Linked DNA regions of Homo sapiens. The protein of the gene in region 1 interacts with the protein of each later gene in a biochemical or structural test. Each region holds a gene or a part of one and is shown in the gene's direction. Other genes may lie near its edges.

What was found.
Region 2: the proteins of PDX1 (region 1) and PCIF1 form a complex in vitro, tested with the Homo sapiens proteins (one study listed by BioGRID).
Region 3: the proteins of PDX1 (region 1) and ATF3 form a complex in vitro, tested with the Homo sapiens proteins (one study listed by BioGRID).

The regions. Positions count from the first base shown.
Region 1 is NC_000013.11:27,916,046-27,923,105, forward strand, and holds the start of PDX1 (pancreas/duodenum homeobox protein 1), read left to right. Parts: upstream 1-3,954; 5' UTR 3,955-4,093; coding exon 4,094-4,499; intron 4,500-7,060. UniProt on the Homo sapiens protein: Activates insulin, somatostatin, glucokinase, islet amyloid polypeptide and glucose transporter type 2 gene transcription. Particularly involved in glucose-dependent regulation of insulin gene transcription.
Region 2 is NC_000020.11:45,937,597-45,944,702, forward strand, and holds part of PCIF1 (mRNA (2'-O-methyladenosine-N(6)-)-methyltransferase), read left to right. Parts: exon of another isoform or gene 1-102; intron 103-1,384; 5' UTR 1,385-1,403; coding exon 1,404-1,527; intron 1,528-1,618; coding exon 1,619-1,743; intron 1,744-2,878; coding exon 2,879-3,016; intron 3,017-3,212; coding exon 3,213-3,343; intron 3,344-3,456; coding exon 3,457-3,611; intron 3,612-5,500; coding exon 5,501-5,648; intron 5,649-5,743; coding exon 5,744-5,827; intron 5,828-6,069; coding exon 6,070-6,169; intron 6,170-7,106. UniProt on the Homo sapiens protein: Cap-specific adenosine methyltransferase that catalyzes formation of N(6),2'-O-dimethyladenosine cap (m6A(m)) by methylating the adenosine at the second transcribed position of capped mRNAs.
Region 3 is NC_000001.11:212,611,755-212,618,860, forward strand, and holds part of ATF3 (cyclic AMP-dependent transcription factor ATF-3), read left to right. Parts: intron 1-3,263; 5' UTR 3,264-3,267; coding exon 3,268-3,507; intron 3,508-6,372; coding exon 6,373-6,480; intron 6,481-7,106.

The DNA.
Region 1 (7,060 bases):
AGGATTAAACCAAAAGTGGAAAGAGCTCGTGCCTGGGGGCCCCACTCCCAGGGAGGAAGCGTTGAGCAGTGGCTGGAGGAAGCAGCAGACAGTTCTGGGGCACACGGAGTCCCCCCTCCTGCCCTTCTACTCCTCTTACACCAGAGAGAGCTAACAAGGTAGGGAATAAGACAATTACCCAATTCAATTCGGTTTTTAAGCTGCTTTTATCTTTACAGTTCAGGGATCACTGAATCATCTGGAAAATAATTTCAGCTCTCTGCTTATTTTCACTAGATTGCTTAGCCCTAGGAATATTGGAAAACCCTTCATTCAAAGTCTGAGGTCCTTTCCTCTCTCCAATCCCCACAACCCAAGCTGGGTTTCCCTGGCCCCTCTCAGACCTGGATACCAAATTCTGGGTATTTATTTATATATATATATATATTTTTAATTTTTTGAGACGGAGCCTCGCTCTGTCTCCCAGGCTGGAGGGCAGTGGCGCGATCTCGGATCACTGCAAGCTCCGCCTCCTGGGTTCACGCCATTCTCCTTCCTCAGCCTCCCAAGTAGCTGGAACTACAGGCGCCCGCCACCACGCCCGGCTAAATTTTTTTGTAGGTTTAGTAGAGACGGGGTTTCATCATGTTAGCCAGGATGGTCTCGATCTCCTGACCTCATGATCCGCCTGTCTCAGCCTCCCAAAGTGCTGGGATTACAGGCGTGAGCCACCGCCCTCGGCCAATTCTGGGTATTCATAAACCAGCAGGAGGGAAACATTGATTCGACTTAGGAAAATGAAAACCTGCCTGCATTAGTGCTCATTGAAGGAAATGCTAATGAACTAAAGTGCAATCAATTATAGAAGTATTCTCATTCCACACATCACATCGTTTGCTTTACAGAATTTTCCAACTCAAGAAACAATTTTTATTTTCAACAGAGATTTAATTATAAAATGAATATAAATTCCACGTGCATTCATGATGTATACCTTGGAGTTAAGTGGGATTCATCTGTTTTTTTCATTTATAATGGGATGCAGTGGCTTAAAAATCCTATCACCAAGCCAAATTCAGCCCTTAGCATGCCTCTGAAACCACCGAGGAAGACTTAGCCACTTACCAAGAACAAGGTAACCTGTGTTCTCCCGGGTGTAAACCGCGTCTCTGTGAAGGGAAAGGGGGAAGAGGGCCGGCAAGGACCTCCAGTATCAGCGAGGACTATCAGGACGTCCAGCTAATAAACGACTTTTTCACTGTCCACACTTTAATTGGTTTACAGCCTTTTTTGTTTATTTATCCATAAGAGCTGCTGTTAAATGGCTCGGGAAGGTGCTCGCCTAATGGCTCGGTATCGCTGCCGGGCCTGTTGTGGGCGAGGCGGCTTGGAGGGGGCGCAGGCGTCAGCGGGGATTCAGAGCGGAAACGCATTTCGCCTGTAATGGACTCGGCGATTTTACGATACCAGGAGCTAGATCCACGGGGAAGTACAACACACGACCTTACTAAGCGGAGGGTTCCGCTTGATGCGTTTTTTATACGGCTGTACGTGATAAAATTCCAGATAACTTTGTTTCATCTAATAATAATAATAACAATAATAAATGGTTGTTTGACCTTTGCTCCCTGGGTCCCTTCTATAGGTCGCAGGCAGCAGAAAATGCTAATTGTGAAAGTGAGAACGCGCCTCCATGGAATACCCCCGGCGATCCCCTCCTCCTCCCCCACAGCCGCGGGTACCCGGGTTTTTGCCGGCGACCGCAACCGGCGGATTTGCTTTCTGCTGAGAGCCTCTTTTCTTTCTGCAGGGCCGAGCAAAAATATTAAATGGAAGCAAATGAAGCATCGAAATGGAGACCAATTTACAGAAATGTGCAATTAGTTGAGAAGTGCAAAGTAAACACTCCGGGGGTGGCAGGCGAGGCAGGGAGCAGGGGAGGGAGAGTGGGGCGCAGACTGAGTCCAGAGTGGGTGTAGGGGTGCCCAGGGAGGAGGGGAAGGGGGAGGAAAAGGAGGGGGAGGGGAAAAGTGGCCGATCTTTGTCCTGAGCGGAGCTTGCCGTCCGCTCATAACCGCGTCGCCAAGTCAACCCTCGGCGACTCGGCAGATTATCTCCAAGGGTCAACACGCCGCGGCCAGGCAACCCCCTCCAGCCTGCCCTCCTGATCGATGTGGTCACTCGCGGCCAGGGTGATAGGGTAGAGTTCTCCGCGGCCGCAGACAATGGACTCATTGACGCGGGCGCACAGAGATTAGGTGCCCGGGCCCCACGGCCTTTCACTCTCTGCCCCCACCAAAACTGCAGGTGGCACTTTTCCCTGAAGAAATCACCGAAACTCTCCCCGCCCGCCGCCGTGCTTCCCTTGGCCTGTCTTCGGTGACAGCAAGGGCATCTACAAGCCAGGGAGCCACACATCAGAGCCACACACATGAGGCCACAGGCCAGGAAGCCACACACATGAGTTCTCACACATCGAAGCAAATGCTGAGACTATACCGGCCTCCCGCAAGAGAAGGAATCTGCAGAGAAGTCCACATTCCCGACTGGCTTTTTTGTCTTTTAATAAAAATAAAGAGTCCTCAGAATAGAGCACTCAATCCGCACTTAAAACACAAATATTTCCAGTAGGAAGAAAGAAATACATTAAGATTGACTCTCAAAGGTCTGGATGTTGGTGCGTTGTTTAGGAAAGGCGGAGCAGTGATTTTTCTCTGGCTTGGTTCTTTGTGGTTCAAGCTCTCTCTTGCTGAGACGTTTCTGCAAAGCTGTCTAGTTTTTCTAAAACCCACGGTGGCGTTTCGAGAAACGTCCTCATTTCGGGAGTATCCAGTCAGAGGCTGGTCAGGCCGCCAGGCCTAGCGGATCATGCCCAGGCAGGGGGTTGGACGTCACCGCCACCCGGAGGTCATCCATCCGCGTCAGTGGGTGCAGAAAAAGTGGCCCTGTTTAAGTCAGGACCCCAGAATGCCCAGAAGTTACTGAATGGTTTGAAGCCAAGCACAGATGTTATCATGGAAAATGCAGCGTTTTTATTTCTTTTTCTAAATATGTAACTCTTCCTCCACTTCCCCCTCTCCTGCTTGCCTTATTTCAATTGCAAGCAGAAGAGAGTGAGTGTTCTCTGCCGGCAAACTCCGCCAGGGTCCCGGCCCGTAGAGAGTCGTCAAGGGTCTGGAACCCCCGTGCCAACACCTGCCCCTGCTTCGCAGCCCCAAGAGGAAGGCCGCGTCTTTCCCCCTCGCTGTATTGGGAAGCTACGTTCCGGGCTGGCCAAATGGGCCCCAATTTTCCAAAACCCAAATTTGTAATACCCTTCAATTTTTTAAAAAAAAGAATTTAAAAAAGTCTCTGTGAATGCTTCAGAAGTTACCGTTTACACCCCAGAAGTACTTGCAGCACATCCACAAGTAAAAACACACAACGAATGCCAGAGTTTCGTGTGTTTTTTAACCGACATCTTTGTGGCTGTGAACAAACTTCATAAATAAAATAGAATCAAATGCTTCTGACCTAGAGAGCTGGGTCTGCAAACTTTTTTTTTATCGTATTCCGCAACAGTTAAATAAAAAATTAAAAACTCAACATGTCTCCTTGTAAACTACATCAATTAACAAACACACTATGTCCATTATCAAATATAATAGAAAAAATATAGGAAAATAGAAAATAGAAAAATATAGGAAAATAGAAACTTTTAAGCCACGGTGAAAATGTTTCTATAAATGAGTGGTTCTAATGTTTTCGTGAGCGCCCATTTTGGGGAGCACCGCCAGCTGCCCGTTCAGGAGTGTGCAGCAAACTCAGCTGAGAGAGAAAATTGGAACAAAAGCAGGTGCTCGCGGGTACCTGGGCCTAGCCTCTTAGTGCGGCCAGCCAGGCCAATCACGGCCCCCGGCTGAACCACGTGGGGCCCCGCGGAGCCTATGGTGCGGCGGCCGGCCCGCCGGTCCGCGCTGGCTGTGGGTTCCCTCTGAGATCAGTGCGGAGCTGTCAAAGCGAGCAGGGGTGGCGCCGGGAGTGGGAACGCCACACAGTGCCAAATCCCCGGCTCCAGCTCCCGACTCCCGGCTCCCGGCTCCCGGCTCCCGGTGCCCAATCCCGGGCCGCAGCCATGAACGGCGAGGAGCAGTACTACGCGGCCACGCAGCTTTACAAGGACCCATGCGCGTTCCAGCGAGGCCCGGCGCCGGAGTTCAGCGCCAGCCCCCCTGCGTGCCTGTACATGGGCCGCCAGCCCCCGCCGCCGCCGCCGCACCCGTTCCCTGGCGCCCTGGGCGCGCTGGAGCAGGGCAGCCCCCCGGACATCTCCCCGTACGAGGTGCCCCCCCTCGCCGACGACCCCGCGGTGGCGCACCTTCACCACCACCTCCCGGCTCAGCTCGCGCTCCCCCACCCGCCCGCCGGGCCCTTCCCGGAGGGAGCCGAGCCGGGCGTCCTGGAGGAGCCCAACCGCGTCCAGCTGCCTTTCCCATGGATGAAGTCTACCAAAGCTCACGCGTGGAAAGGCCAGTGGGCAGGTAAGCCTGGCTCCCCACCCCTTTCTCCTTTCCGGTTCTCACCCGGCCGCCTTACCTCCAAGCGCTCCCAGGAGCCTTCTCTCTGTTCCCGGCGCCTTGGATTATCCCGGGTCGGACTAAACTACATCAGGGAGCTACCGAGCCCATCCCTCACAGCAGTGCTTCTCTAGTCCAGTTTGAAGCATCTTTCCCACCCAGCTCTCCTGGGAGTGTACACTCCTTCCTTCCCTGTTCGCTGAGCCCATCTTCGCCCCAGGAGCCCGCGCTCCCAGCGCCATCCTTAGAGAGCCGAGGCTGAGTCCTGCTCAGGGCTTCGGACACTACAGATCCTCCTCCAGCAGGGGATCCGGGAACCCAGGACTCCTTGGTAGTGCACATCGAGGAAGCCGAGTAGGGACATGGGTGCCTCGGACCCAGGCCCCAGATCGCCTTCGGAGCCCCGGAGCCCCTCACTTCCCGCGCTTCGTTAAGGAAGGGCAGGCATCTAGGGGCGCCAGGTAGGTGCAGAAAGGCAGGGAGGGAAAGGAAACTGCACCCAACCCAGCAGTGTCCGGCTGCCCTGGTTGTGGAAACAGGATAGGAGTAAAGAGGAAGGGGCTGGGGCAAGGCGGGGGCTCACCGCGAGGCTGAAAGCCGGCCTCTCAACGTCAGAGCCTGGCAGCTAGGAGAGCAATCTGAGAAGCGAATTCGTTTTTCACCAACCGAAAGCAATTGAAGCTGTCTCCCCGCACCGCTTCCCAGGAAGTAATTTTTCAGGAGATGGGCGCTCCCTGCCTAGCTGGTGGGGAGGCGAGAGGCCTGGTTCCTGCGGCCCTCCGCGCCGGCAGAGAACAGAAGGTCTTTCCCGGAGCCGGGAGCCGGAGGCACGGGGTAGCCCCCGGGTCCTTTGCGGCCCCGCGCGAGCGGCAAGTTCCGGCGCGGCCTGTGTCGTCGCCGCTACTCACTGTCATCGCTGCCGTGCCTCAGCCACTTCTGGTCACACCTGCACCGCAAATAGTTGCCTTTTCCTTTCAACTGGCAGCCGGGAGTAGGGGGAAGCAGCTCGAGCCGGCGTCCCCCGGCCCACCCCGAAAATCCTCAGCGCCCATCTGCGGGGTCTGGCCAGCCCTGCCTGACACTGACCCCAGGCGCAGCCAGGAGGGGCTTTGTGCGGGAGAGGGAGGGGGACCCCAGCTTGCCTGGGGTCCACGGGACTCTCTTCTTCCTAGTTCACTTTCTTGCTAAGGCGAAGGTCCTGAGGCAGGACGAGGGCTGAACTGCGCTGCAATCGTCCCCACCTCCAGCGAAACCCAGTTGACAGGGGCGCCAGAAGCTGCCGCGGCGCCTCTGCAAATTTATCCAGCTCGCGCAGCCCGGGCCAAAGGCCTTGAAGTCTCCGGAAATGCGGGGTTCTTAGGAGGCGGGAGGACAGTCCCTCGAACAAAGGTGGGGGGCTCCTCGTCCTCACCCAGTTTTCTTCCAGGGCTGCCTCCCCTCCAGACCTCTCTTCTGGCCTCCTAGGCCCTCGGAGCTCCTGCTTTCCCACCCTGGGCCTTCCTCAGGAAATGGGCGACATCAGGGTCCCGAAAGAGGATTTGTGAGGTGGAGTAACTTCCCTATCCCAACCCAAGGGGTGATACCTCTGCTCTGGAGGACTTGGGCTTAGGCTGACCCAAGAAGCCAGAAAGTAAAACCAGAAGGCAAATCAGCAGCCTTGGCGAGGGTTCGGGGACCCAAGGAGGGCGACACTCTCGGGCTGGAGTTGGCCCCAGGCCTTTGCTGGCGCCCTCTAACCCGCTGCATGCTCGACTCTCGGGGAAGGAGACGACCTCCCCTCTCTTCCCCTGGAAGCCGTCTGCGGGGCCGGCTGCTATCCCCGCGTTCCTCTAGGGGAAACTTCGATGGAGCCGAAATTCAAAAATTGCAAACCCACCTGCCCCTGGGAAGAGCGAAGTGACAAAAGGGCTCTCACTGGCAGTACGAATCTGAATGCTAATGACAACAGAGGTTTTGAAAAACATTGACCCCCAAATGCTTCAGCAGCGCTGTCCAGCTGGCACCTAAACTGCATCACTCTGCGCCTTGGGGAAGGGCCCAGGCTTGGCGACCTTGACCTTTTCCCACCATCCTCAACCTCCACCCCTGCCGCGTCGCGCTGAGCACAGGTCCCCCGGGAATAGTGCACCCCAGGAAGTCTCTCCCTGAGCAGTCTCTCGCAGGGACTTCACGAAGCCCTCTCGCAGGGACTATACGAAGCCCGCAGCCTAAGGCAGGAACCCAGAGACATGTCGGTTTAATGTAAAAACTTTGGAGAGCCTTTCAAAATGTTTATTGAAGGCCCGTCTCGCTTCTCTCCCAGGCGTGGGATGCCAGGTAGATTCGGGGATGCCCCCAGGGAGTAGAACTCTCCCTGGACTAGGGTTTGAGCCTCTGCTTCAGCTTCTGGCGCCTCTTCTCGACCTGGGGGGAAACCCAGTAGGGTTCCATCGCGAAATTAAACCCGCCCCCAACACACACACACTCGCCTTTCAATTCCTTAAGGCTTAGCCAACATTCACAGGAGAAATGTCCCCTGCCTTTGC
Region 2 (7,106 bases), on another chromosome or scaffold:
GGGGACTTCATTCAGTCTTGAAACCTGTGTGCTCAGCCCCCAAGGCATCAGGAATTCTTCCTGCCCAGAGAATCAAGGCAGCTTCATTTTTTTCGTACCTTGGTCAGTGGTTCTCAACCTTTTTGTTATCAAGGCACTTTTTGTTGTACATATGTCCTGTTGCCCCCTGCATTTTTATCTGCCAAACTGTACTGATGGAGTAACCATTGACTTTTCCCTTCCTAAATTAAGGAAGACGTCTATGATGGAGTGTACAATAAAATCAGTGTCCCAATGATTCGTATGATGTCATCAACAACCAATCAGAGCTTCTGATCAGCATGAGATAATCAGTGTGACCACAATGAGTTGATAAAATTTCAGCATGAAAAGATAACTGATGTTTAAGCCTGCCTTTGTGGTCTTGTTGTGGGCAAAAGTTTGATTTCTTTTGGGTGGTGTGACCTACTGAAAACAACTTTAGCATCACCAGTTCTATCTCAGTTAGCTCCCAGTTGTCTGACAGCCCCAGGCCAGAAGCACTTTGGCTCCTGAGGCTGTTGCTGGGTGTGCTTTGGGTGGGGGAGTAGGGAATACAGATCTGAAGGAACTGGCCTCCTTGCTGGTACTTACAGTAAATATTCACCTGGGGATTATGAAGGAGTCAATTAGATAGTCCTTCTTGGTTGCATTGGTTATTTTAGCAATAGCTGCTTCCTGCCATGTAGTGTAAAATAAGGTGACCAATTAGATTCCATGCCCTTCCCTAGTGTGCTTTGTTCCTTTTAGATTTTACTGGATGAGAGCAGTAAAATCCCATCTCCTTCTGGGAGTTGTTACTATTCCTTCTTGTAGGAATCGCTTCTCAAGGGCAGACCCTGTTCTGTCTTTTTTGCTGCTCTTGGTGCTTTGTAAATATTTGCAGAATCAGTAGTGCTCCTGTTGGGTCCAGGTCCTAGGCCTGAGCACAGGAGAGAGCTGAATTGGACGCAGTTCCTATTTCTGGAAGTTCTGACAGTTTAGTGGGGAGACAAACCCAGCTGATAGATGAGACCATCTGAGTGCTACGACAGAGGTGTTCACGGCCCTGAGGAGGAGCTCTGACCACCTGGCCTGGGGAGGGGAGAGTCAAGGAAGGCTTCCTGGAGGATGTGAACCCAGTAGCAAGCCAGGCAGAGAAGAGGGGGAGGGGCATTTCAGGCAGAGGAAGCAGCAGGAGTGCACCCATTGAACAGCTGGAATTGCAGCTTAGATCCCAGGGCTGCTGTGTGGCACCATGCTGGCCCTCCAGGATAGGACCTGATTGGATTTCTCCACATCGGTGGGTGGTCACTGGGGCCCTGGGTGGATTGTAATTGGCGGGTGAGGGGGTGGAGCTGACACTCTTTGGTCCTCTGTGTGGCAGGTCCTGTGTGGGTGTGGAGATGGCCAATGAGAATCACGGCAGCCCCCGGGAGGAAGCGTCCCTGCTGAGTCACTCCCCAGGTACCTCCAATCAGAGCCAGCCCTGTTCTCCAAAGCCAATCCGCCTGGTTCAGGACCTCCCAGGTACTGAGGGGGAGCAGTAGTGGGGTGGTGGGGTAGGAAGGGCACCCTGGGAGCAGTCCTGACCCTGGCTGGGCTCCGTGCCTGTTTGCAGAGGAGCTGGTGCATGCAGGCTGGGAGAAGTGCTGGAGCCGGAGGGAGAATCGTCCCTACTACTTCAACCGATTCACCAACCAGTCCCTGTGGGAGATGCCCGTGCTGGGGCAGCACGATGTGATTGTGAGTGCCAGCCTAGGGTGGGGGGGTCTCAGAGTGGCCTCTGGCACCTGGGCCTTCCCCAAATGTACCCTGAGCAGCCGTTCAGTGCCCAGCCCTGTGCTGGCACCTGCAGATACAATGACAAGCAAGACAGACACAGCCCCTGCCCTCATGGAACCTACACTCAAATGGGGTAGACTGACAAGTAAACAGATGATTGCATGGCTGCTGCACGGTGGGTGCTGTGCCGCGAGGCAGGAATGAACAAGGCAGACTTGCTCCCTACGGTCGCAGAGCACCCATGGGCTGCCAGGTGACAGCAGGATTACACTTGTGGTCCGTGTATGAGGAATAGTGTTAGAATACATCTAGATCCTGACATACTCTGGGGAAGGCAAGGAGATGGGAAAAGCTCTGAGAATGAGTGTTTAAGGTGAGAGAGTGAGTGAGTGTGGGGAGGAAAAGAACATTCTAGGATCTGACATGTCAGTACGACGGGAAGTACAGGCATGGGCTGTCTGGTGGGAACATGGGCTTTTGGGTCCTTCTCAGCTGGGGCAGCATTTCTTTACTGGGCACAGTTGAGACAGTTGGCATCTTCATTTTGCATGTGAAGACACTGAGGTTCAAAGATGGGGAACGACTGGCACGAGACCTCACAGTAATAGGCAGAGCAGGACGCACACCTGATGTGAGTTCAGGGCCACACTACTCACCACCATGCATTCTCTCAGTGTTACCAAGAGTCCCATCTGCAGGGCCTTGCTTTTTACAACAATAAGCAGTTTTTGAGCTTTTCATTTATTCCTCACATTCATTCTGTTCTTGAGGAAAATAATGTGTAATGAGTACTGATCTCATGCCAGATGCCATGTTAAGCAGGTCATATTCACTGACTCATTTAATAATCTCAGTGGTGATGTAGGGATTAGCATGGCCATTCTGAAGGTGAGAGAACTGGAAGGGAAGTAACACACCCTGTCGCACAGTTGCAAGTTGCAGGCAGGACTGGAGCCCAGTGTTCTCTGCCTGTATCCCAGCTCCTCTGCTCTTCCCTAAGGAGTAGGAGCAGGGGTGGGAGGGCGTGAGGATTCAAAGTCCTGTGGCTCCTAAGCCGCTGGCCCTGGTTGCAACTCTGCTGGTCTCCCTCCACCAGTCGGACCCTTTGGGGCTGAATGCGACCCCACTGCCCCAAGACTCAAGCTTGGTGGAAACTCCCCCGGCTGAGAACAAGCCCAGAAAGCGGCAGCTCTCGGAAGAGCAGCCAAGCGGCAATGGTGTGAAGAAGCCCAAGGTGAGTGTCTGTGGCCAGGAGCCGGCTGCCGAGCGGCCGGCTCAGACGGGCCGCCTGCAGGCTCCCTGCAGGGGCTGGGCATTGGCAGGCCAGCCAGGAGGGGGGCCTGGGACACAGTTCACCAGGTGTGCACTGTATTGGATGGAGCCTCTCTGGTGAATCTCCTGACTTGACACCTTTGTGACTTTCACTACAGATTGAAATCCCAGTGACACCCACAGGCCAGTCGGTGCCCAGCTCCCCCAGTATCCCAGGAACCCCAACGCTGAAGATGTGGGGTACGTCCCCTGAAGATAAACAGCAGGCAGCTCTCCTACGACCCACTGAGTGAGTCCCTGCTGATTGGCTTGGGGGCACCCATTGCTAATGTCAGCCTGTCTGGGACTGTGGGGTGGTGTGGGTGGGCAGGACATCCTCATCACTCCTCTCTGTGCCCCAAGGGTCTACTGGGACCTGGACATCCAGACCAATGCTGTCATCAAGCACCGGGGGCCTTCAGAGGTGCTGCCCCCGCATCCCGAAGTGGAACTGCTCCGCTCTCAGCTCATCCTGAAGCTTCGGCAGCACTATCGGGAGCTGTGCCAGCAGCGAGAGGGTACCTGCCTCTGGGCTGCAGCCTCCTTTATTTCCACCCACCTTTAGCATGAGCCAGGTTTGGCCAGGCCAGTTTGGGGATGGCGGAGTGGGGCCCAGTGGTGAGCCATGATCACACCAGTGCACTCCAGCCTGAGTGACAGAGCAAGACCCTCTTTCAAAAAAACAAGAGTATCTATACCTTAGGATTCTATGATAACCATTAAGTAAAATGAATAAGTATTAAATGAACTGTAGTTTTTAATTTTATTTATTTATTTTTTTTGAGATGGAGTCTTGTTCTGTAGCCCCTGCTGGAGTGCAGTGGCACCATCTCCGCTCACTGCATCATCCTCCTCCTGGGTCCCGGTTCAGGCAATTCTCCTGCCTCAGCCTCCCGAGTAGCGGGATTACAGGTGTACACCACCATGCCCAGCTCATTTTTGTATTTTTAATAGAGATGGGGGTGTCACGATGTTGGCCAGGCTGGTCCTGAACTCCTGACCTTGTGATGCGCCCGCCTCAGCCTCCCACAGTGCTGGGATTACAGGCATGAGCCACCACACCTGGCTAATTTTTTTTTAAGAGACAGGATCTGGCTATGTTGCCCAGGCTGGTCTTGTACTCCTGGGCTCAAGCCTTCTGCTTGCCTTGGCCTCCCACAGTGCTGGGATTACAGATGTGAGCCACCATGCCTGGCCTAGTTTTTAATTTTTATGATTAGTAATAAACCTATTTAACCTTGCTCAAATATAGAATCCTCTGGCCTTTCACCTTTTTTTTTTTTTTTTTAATTTTTTTTTTTCTTGAGACGGCGTCTCGCTCTGTCGCCCAGGCTGGAGTGCAATGGCGTGATCTCGGCTCACTGCAACCTCCACCTCCCGGGTTCAAGCGATTCTTCTGCCTCAGCCTCCTGAGTAGCTGGGACTACAGGTGCCTGCCACCACGCCCAGCTAATTTTTATACTTTTAATAGAGATGGGGTTTCACCATGTTGGCCAGGATGGTCTCGATCTCTTGACCTTGTGATCCACCCGCCTTGGCCTCCCAAAGTGCTGGGATTACAGGCGTGAGCTACCGCACCCGGCCCACCCTTTTTTTTTTTTTTTTTACATTATGTAATACTTTTTTTTTTTTTTCTTTTTCTAAGATGGAGTTTTGTTCTTGTTGCCCTGGCTGGAGTGCAATGGCACGGTCTCGGCTCACTGCAACCTCTGCCTCCCAGGTTCAAGCGATTCTCCTGCCTCAGCCTCCTTAGTAGCTGGGAATATGGGCACATGCCACCACACCCAGCTAATTTTTGTATTTTTAGTAGAGATGGGTTTTTTCCATGTTGGCAAGGCTGGTCTCTAACTCCTGACCTCAGGTGATCCACCCATCTCGGCCTCCTGAAGTGCTGGGATTACAGGCGTGAGCCACTGCGCCCAGCCTTTTTATTCTTTTCTTTTGAAACAAGGTCTCGCTCTGTCACCCAGGTTGGGGTGCAGTGGCACGACCACAGCTCACAGCAGCTTCAGCCACCCGGGTTCAAGCGATCCTCCCGCCTCAGCCTCCCGAGGAGCTGGGACACCCAGCTAATTTCTTTTTTTTTTTTTTTTTTTTTTTTTTTGTAGAGACAGGCTGTTACTGTGTTGCCCAGGCCGGTCTTGAACTCATGGGCTCAAGCTGTCCTTCCACCTTAGCCTTCCAAAGTGCTGAGATTACAGATGTGAGCCACTACGCCTGGCTAGATACTTATCAACACTATAAAACTAGTGATTCTTAGAATATATTTTGGGAAATGCAGCCTAGAAGCTTCTGAAGTGGGACTGTGTCTTGCTTACTGCTGAATGCGATGCTTCCTATACGTGCCAAGCTCCAAGTGGGACTGCTTGATTAAATCCAGGCCTTCAGCAGCTCTCCTGTCCTGCAGGCATTGAGCCTCCACGGGAGTCTTTCAACCGCTGGATGCTGGAGCGCAAGGTGGTAGACAAAGGATCTGACCCCCTGTTGCCCAGCAACTGTGAACCAGTCGTGTCACCTTCCATGTTTCGTGAAATCATGAACGACATTCCTATCAGGTACAGCTCCACAGCTGGGGATGACCCTGGGCCATTTGGTTTCTGTGCCCAGTCATGTATAGAAGGCCTCTAACTCTGCCCACTCTGAAACGCAGGTTATCCCGAATCAAGTTCCGGGAGGAAGCCAAGCGCCTGCTCTTTAAATATGCGGAGGCCGCCAGGCGGCTCATCGAGTCCAGGTTTGCCTGTCTTCTGCCCCAGGCGAGATGGGTCTGTGATTAAAGTGGCAGGTCATAGGCCATCTTGCCCAGTCTCATGCAGGGCTGTCATTGCTCTCGGTGGCAGAAGTGGGGCCAGCTCCCAAAGGCAGAACAAGGGCTGTGATGGAAGCTAGGGGTTGATACCCAGCGAGCCCATGGAATTGGGATGAGGAGGGTGGAGCCAAGCCATTCCTTTCTTCTGCCCTCCCCTTGACTGGCAGGAGTGCATCCCCTGACAGTAGGAAGGTGGTCAAATGGAATGTGGAAGACACCTTTAGCTGGCTTCGGAAGGACCACTCAGCCTCCAAGGAGGACTACATGGTGAGTGGGTCCCCGGGTGAGAAGGCCAGTTTTAGGGCTCTGTGGCCACTTCCTCCAGGAAGCCTACTCTGCCTGTCCAGGCTGGGCAAGGCCTCCCCCAGCGGCCTATTCTTGTGCAGTATGGCAGACGTTCGACATTCGTCAGTCCCCAAACTCATGACTGTGGAGATGTTTCTCTGGGCTCCTGGCTTTCTCCCACAGAACATTTCCATTAACAATCTTAATGGAGTCTTATGCTTGGCCACACACCACAGATAGCTGCCTTTCAGCCTAATGAATGTTCAGCATCTCCCTTGTAGATTTTTGGAAACAGATTGACAGCCTGCTTTTTTTGGGTGTGTGTGTTCATATCATGGTTAAGAGCTACCATCAGATTCAATTCCCTACTCTTAATGTGTCCAAAACAGTTCTGTTTTCTGGCCAAAACCTATCACTTCTTAAACCTCTCCACCAGCACTAGCAATGGGCTTTCTTTTCAGGACCATATTTCACAAGAGACAAGGTTTCGCACTTCACGATAGTAACTGTGTACTTGACACGTAGAGAGTGACAAAGGTAGGTGTACTCACTAGCCAGAGTGACTCATTCTCACTCTTCAGTTTTACACGTGTGATTCAGCAAAATTACAAATCCCGACAGTCATCTTTGCAAGTAGCTAAAAGCTCAAATCTCAAGTCTGCAGCAACCAAGCACCCTGTTTTGTAATTGTGTCTTTCCCCAATAGACTGCAAACACCATAAGCTGGGACTGTGCTGGTTTGTCTGTTTCTCCGGTAATTATCATGGGATCTAGCAGTGTAACCCCAACAAAAGCTACTGGCATTTATTGTACACTTACTGTATGCCAGGCATTTGGCAAGCCCTTAAGGGAAATGATCACATTTAATATTCAAACTGCCCTGTTAGGTATCTCGTGTCCCCTTGACACTTGAGGAATA
Region 3 (7,106 bases), on another chromosome or scaffold:
GAATTTCCAGTTAAAGGAATACATGAGTAAACTTTCACTTTCTTGAAAATGATGAAACTGCCAATGATACAACATGATTTCTGATTGGAAATAATCAAGCAGAAACAAAATGCAAGTTCTTGGTAGCAAGTCTGAACAATTTTATGATCAGCATAGAAAGTCAACTCTGATCTGAGGTCCCCAAACAATTTTTTTCAATGACCGGGATGTTTGAGGATCTCAACTTTCTGAAAAATTGTGTGAAGATTTAACTTCATTTCCTTGTGGGGACACAGCCGTAGTCTAGGCTGAATCATACCTCGAGAGACTGAGTAAAGGAATAACTAGAAAGTATCCCGAGAAGTTAAGCTTTAGCCTAGTGCCGAGAAAACCCAAATCTCGACAGATACATCTGTTTTATTTTCTGAAAGGCTTTTAACATTTTTACAACCATTTATGTCCCCAAGGAAGCCCACCCAATGCTTTTCATAAAAGCATTCCATACCACTGACATTCTTCAGCTTCTTTCATTGGGACTGCTGACTTTACATAAGAAGAAGGGTAGGGGGCGGGAGTCATAAACAGCAGACCCCAAGCCCTGAGAGCTCATTAATAAACCTAGTTGGATGGCAAAATGGAACTACACTCTACTGCAGTGGAATTCAAAGTCCCCGTGTAGAAGGGAGCCATCCAGGCCTCCAAACAAAGACCAGCCCAGTGGCAGCTCTGAATGTCATCCCCGAATCACTGAGTTTTTAATAAACTTGGAAAGGGAAGGGAAACATGAATGCATGGGAGAATCTTAAGCCTCTGGCTTTAGAAGGCTAGTTTCTCAGAGTTTATTGCCTGACAGCGACAAGTATCCTCCCAGCATCCTAAGATTATAGGATTAAATTGAGAGAAGAACTTCAGTTCTGACTCATGACACAGGGCTTTGGGAAAAGAATTACATACATAGCCTGGGTTTCTTTGACTAGTCAAGGGCAGATTTCATTGGCCTGGAAGTCTTGCCTCCATTGGTGTATGTTAGATCTCCAGGGGGAGTTTGAAGTCAGGGTATTCTATTCAGAAGCCTTTGAGATCAAAGTGGGTGACCAGCTGCCCTCCTTCCTGGACTCCACAGAGCCTCTGTCAGAGAGCCAGCCCTGGGCTGGAGAGATCTCTGGGAGGCCTAGTAATCATGGAGCTCCTGGCCAAAGAATGTTTTCCAGGGCATATTCATGTATTAGTTCCTCAATTCCTCATAGGATATTATGGGAAAATAGGGCGATTATTACAAGCCCTCTTTAACAGAGGAGAAAAAGCCACGGGGAGGTACAATGATAACACATAATGGAGTAAGTGGGCTTCAAATCTTCATCTTCTGACCTCAGTCTGGGAATTTTGTGGATAAGAGACCCACTTGCTCACACTCCCAGAAGGCAGTTAGCAAGCAGCCTGGGTATGCACCGTGACATAAAGATTAGCAGTTCATTAAACAGAGTTCAGTTTATCCCGAGGAATCTTTACTTAGCCTCCCCTCTATCACTTCATTTCCAGGCCTCCCACCTACCTTAAGGCCTGCCCCGAGAAAATTTGCTCTGGTTTTTTGTTTGTTTGTGCAATATAACATAATGCTTGTTTGTTTTTGTAATGTAGAATAATATTTGTTTGTTTTTTGCAATGTACAAATTAAGGGCATGAATCCTGGAGCCAAACTAACTTAATTCCAAATCCTGATGCTGCCCCATATTAATTCTGTGAATTCGGGCAAATGACTTAGTTTGTCTAAACCTCAATTATCTCATCTATAAAAGGCAGCTAGATCTTAACTCACTGGGTTCTCGTGAGGATTAAATGAGATAGTGCCCCTAAGGTTTCTGGTATGAAGGAGGCACTCCTTAAATGTTCGAGACTTGCCAGAGGGCTTCTTCTCTGTCTGGACTGTGCTAATGACCACAGATCCCCGGTTGAGAGGAATGCCCAGACCACACTCATCCTACACTCATCCCTATACTCATTGTCCCTTGGGAACCAACTGCAGGGAGGAGGGGAAATGGCCACCACTGGAGGGAGTACACAGCAGGCCAAGACTTATGGGGGACTCTTCCAAATTGGGGCCATGGAACTGTCACTATTTCTACTCTTTATTTTCCTTTTGTCATCCTTTTGGGTTCACCGAGCTATAGAATAACAGAGGGAGATGAATTTAGCAAATACATCACTGAAGCTTCTCCCTCGGAAGTTGGGCCCAAGCAATGGGAATGAGAAAGGTAACCTTGGACCGTGGGGGCCATTTGATTTGATGACCCCATCCCCACTTCATTTATCAGTTGGCCAATGAGGCATGGCGAGTCAGGCATTGGGCCAGGCTCTGGGTAAAGCAATGGTGGAGACTCAATGCTTGCATTGGAGGAGCTGTCAGTCATTTACCAGACACAGACTGGGTCCTAGAGAGCTGAAATTACTAGCTCAAGTCACTGCTGTTTAGTGCCAGAGCCAGCCCCAGGGTTCCCTGCCCCCACACCCAGCCTAAGTCTATCCCTATACCACAGGCCTGAACAACTCCCCCACAATACAGTGCCTCACTTTTCTTTAAGACCTTTTGCTTTGCCAACCTTAACCTTAAGAATCCACCTCCCCATCCCCTGCCAAAGACTGGGGTGAAGAAACGCACCTGGCTACAGTTACCTTTCTCATTCCCATTGCTTGGGCCCAACTTCGGGGGAGAAGCTTCAGAGATGTATTTGCTAAATTCAAGGATTCCCCACTTTTTGCTTTTACTTCCACTCACTGATAGTTTCAGCTTGACGTCAAGCCTCTTTGAAAAAGAGGCTTTTTTTTTTAAGTGAAAGAAACTTTATTTTGAGTAATATACAAAAAAAAAAAAAGAGAGAGAGAGAGAAAGAAAAAGAAGCTGAAAATGAGATTACTCATGATTTTTAAAATGGCCTCACTGATTTTTAAAAAATGTTCTTCCTCTTTCAGGACTGTTTGTGGCCACATTTGCACATAGGCACACCAGCCAAAACTCATAGATCTTGTGAATTCAGAGTAGCCTGAAACATCATCCCTTATAAATTTCAAATAGGCATTTTGTTCATGTCACTGAGCTATGTGTATTTTAAGAACCTGCTTTACTTAAGATGAGGATGGCATGAAATGAAAACAAAACAGAAACCCAAGGGCTTATGGGACTTTTCTCTGAGGGTGGGGCTCTGGTGTTGGAGGTCTGGTGGGGGAGGGGGACTTGATCCCATGCCCCAGAGCCCCTGAAACAGTTTGGGTTTCAATGTGTCTTTCAGCAAAATGATGCTTCAACACCCAGGCCAGGTCTCTGCCTCGGAAGTGAGTGCTTCTGCCATCGTCCCCTGCCTGTCCCCTCCTGGGTCACTGGTGTTTGAGGATTTTGCTAACCTGACGCCCTTTGTCAAGGAAGAGCTGAGGTTTGCCATCCAGAACAAGCACCTCTGCCACCGGATGTCCTCTGCGCTGGAATCAGTCACTGTCAGCGACAGACCCCTCGGGGTGTCCATCACAAAAGCCGAGGTGGGTTCTATCACAGGTATTCATTCTTTCGGCACATGTTTCGCTCGCAGCCACTGTGTGTTGGGCATGTTCTAGGCAGGGGGCTGTTGTTGAGAGTGAAACAAACAAAACCACTGCCCTCAGGGAGCTTACCTTCTCCTGGGAGGAGACAGAAGTACATAACATACGTAAGTACACGTTAAGAGATGAGTGCAAAGGAGAAAAAAGCAGGGAGCGGGGCAGAGAGAACGGGTAGGGATGGGGTTGCTGGGTTTAAAAACTTTTCAGGCCAGGCATGGTGGCCCACGCTTATAATCCCAGCACTTTGAGAGGCCAAGATGGGATTATCGCTTGAGTCCAGGAGTTTGAGACCAGCCTGGGCAACACAATGAAACCCAATCTCTATGACAGTATTAGCTGGGCAAGGTGGTACATGGCCTATAGTCTCATCTACTTGCGAGGCTGAGGTGGGAGGACCGCTTGAGCCCAGGAGGTTGAGGCTGCAATGAGCCGTGATCACCTCACTGCACTCCAGCCTGGGTGATGGAGCAAGACTCATTTTGCTTTTAGAGACAGTGTTGCTCCATCACCCAGGCTGGGGTGCAGTGGGGTGATCACGGCTCATTGTAGCCTCAGTCTCCTGGGCTCAAGCGATCCTCCTGCTTCAGCCTCCCAAAACACTGGGATCACAGGGATGAGCCATTGCACCCAGCCGGGGTTGCTGTTTTAAATTAGGAAGTCAGGTAAGGATTCACTGATAGTGACTTTTGAGCAGAGGTCAAAAGGAAAGGAAGAAGGAAAGAGGAGAGGGAAGAAGCCACGTGGGTATCTGGTAAAAGAAATTAAGGGCACTGAGGTGGAAGTATTGGTGCCTGGTGGGCTGTGCAGTGGGGCAGAGTATAGGGGTGGGAGATAAATAGGGGCTGGTCATATTGGGTCTTACAGATTATTATTGTATAGATGCAGCCCTGGGCTCAAAGTGAGGTGGGAAACCACAGAAGGCTTTTGAGCAGAGAAGCAACAAGATTCAACACACACACACACACACAGATACACACACACACTTTTTTTTTTGAGACAGAGTCTTGTTCTGTCACCCAGACTGGAGTGCAGTGGCATGATCTTGGCTCACTGCAACCTCTGCCTCCCAGGTTCAAGGGATTCTCATGCCTCAGTCTTCCAAATAGCTGGGATTACAGGTGCCCGCCACACGTCTGGCTAATTTTTGAATTTTTTTAGTAGAGACGGGGTTTCTCCATGTTGGCCAGGCTGGTCTCGAACTCCTGACCTCAGGTAATCCGCCCGCCTCGGCCTCCCAAAGTGCTGGGATTACAGGTGTGAGCCACCACGCCCAGCCTTGATTTATATTTTTAAATGATCACCCTGGCTGTCATGTTGAGAATGGGCAGTAGGGGTAAGACAGAAGCTGAGTGCACAGAAAGGAGGCCGTGGCAGGAATCCACGTGAGTCAGGGGGCCTGCAGCAGGAGGGAGCAGTGCAGGTGCTGAGAAGTGGTTGGCTTTGGATCTGACTTGAAGGTAAAGCTGATTTGCTGATAGATTGGATGTGGGGTGTAAGAGAAAGGGAAGACTCAAGGGTGACTGAGTTTTCTGGCCAGCATAGCTGTAAGAATGGAGCGTCCATTTGCTGCTGAGATTTGGGATTATAGGGGTTAGGGTGGTGGCAAGAGCAGGAGGTCTGTCCTATTCTGCAGACCCCTGTGGAGATGTCAAGCAGGCAGTTGGATATGTGAGTCTGGAGTTCAGAGGACAGTCTGGGCTAGAGATAATAGAGTTGGAAATTATCGGCATATAGATGGCACTTAAAGCCATGAGTCAGGATGAGGCCACCTTCTGTGTCCAGTTGTTCTGAAGAAGCTTGGAGCGTGGTGGTCCCTGTTTTTATCACTACTAGGACCCAAGCACCCAGACAGTAGAGCAAGGACCAGGCAGCCTGCCCCACCCTTCCCTGTAGCAATGTTCACAGCCTTGGGACCAGGTGTTGCTCCAGGTTCACTTCTGTCTGACACACTTGCACTGTTCCACGCTTGGCAACCTTGGGTAAGACTCCTGGAATAATAAACATGGTGAGAAGTCTGGGAGGTGGCTTCTGGCGATGCCATAGTGGCTTAAGGATGTCAGAGCTGAGGTTCCACCATTTTATTGGCCTTTTCCTCATGGTGGCAAGTGGAAGTGTTTCAGGCTTACTCAACTGGCATGATTGCAGCCTTTGGGCAAGGAGTAGTGGGACTGACCTAAAAGACTGTCCTAGTTCACCACTTGCAGGTGGCACCCCAGCATGGGCCGATTAATGCCGCTTTGGTTGGGAATGGGCTTAGGTGCCTTTTCTACAGGAGCATCATGGGCTTCTCCCAAATTTGGGAAGCTGGTGCTCTGATGCTCCAGGTGAAGTCAGAGGTGAATGGGGTTGCCCTTGGGTCTTGAATTGAAGAAGAGGCCGGGAGTGGGTGGCTAGGTAATGATCCTGAGATCATTCCTGGTTCTCAAAGAAAGGAGATGTTTACCAGACAGAATCTGTTTCGGCTTTAAATGATTATAGTTAATACCAATAGTTATCAATTTGCATATTATCCTCATCTCAAAATCCAAATGCATTTTTAAAATTGGCTAACTTTTAATTTACTAATATATTGCCGGTATAATTTTAACTTTGATTTTTGTTGTTCACTCACGTGTGTGTGTGTGCGTGTGTGTGTGTGTGTGTGTAGGGGTTTTCACACAAAAGTCTAGAGCTTTAGTATTTCGGGGTCTTTTAGCGCTAGCATTGCCCTTGTCTGCCAGCTTTTGCTGGCAGTAAAAGGCAGTGTATTTGAGGTAGGTGGCATTTCTTACTGCCCTTTAAATGTGTTTCTTTTGGATTTTACAGGTAGCCCCTGAAGAAGATGAAAGGAAAAAGAGGCGACGAGAAAGAAATAAGATTGCAGCTGCAAAGTGCCGAAACAAGAAGAAGGAGAAGACGGAGTGCCTGCAGAAAGTGAGTGCCTTCTAGCCTTACCCTTCCTCTCGCTCACGCCTGTCTTCACCAGCTTCATGTGGCTATCAGAAGAAGAGTTAGAAAACCCCCTACTTGGTTATAGTTTCCCAAGAAGGGCCTTGTAGCTGGTAGCAGAAATGCCAGTTGCAGAATGAGGAGGTGGCAAAGCAGTTAACACAATGGATGTGACGGTGGATGTATAAAAACAGGTGTGTGAATTCGTCTGATGCCTGACTCCCAGCAGCCTCGGCCGGTTCATACATGTCCATCAGCTTCCAGGCTGCAGGACATGCCAGCCCAGTTAAAGAGGCTTCACTTGACTGTTTTCCTGAGAAAAGGAAGCTGCCAGCTCTCATTTGGCTCACTATGAAAAGCCTTTAATTAATCTCTTCAAACAAGTTATTTCCTTAATCCACAAGCAGTGGTTACACTTGCTTTGCATTCTTGTCTGGTTCCTAACTCTAGAGCCCTTCTCCCTGGCTTAGCCAGTAAGCTGAGCCCCTGGCTGCGTTCAGCCGGCCCGCCTGAGAGACACTAGGGGAAATAGCTTTTGTGGGCAAGCAGGGTGGCCGGTGGTGCTCAGCAGTCTTTCCAGTGGCTGTGTCCCTCCTCCAAATGTGGACAGG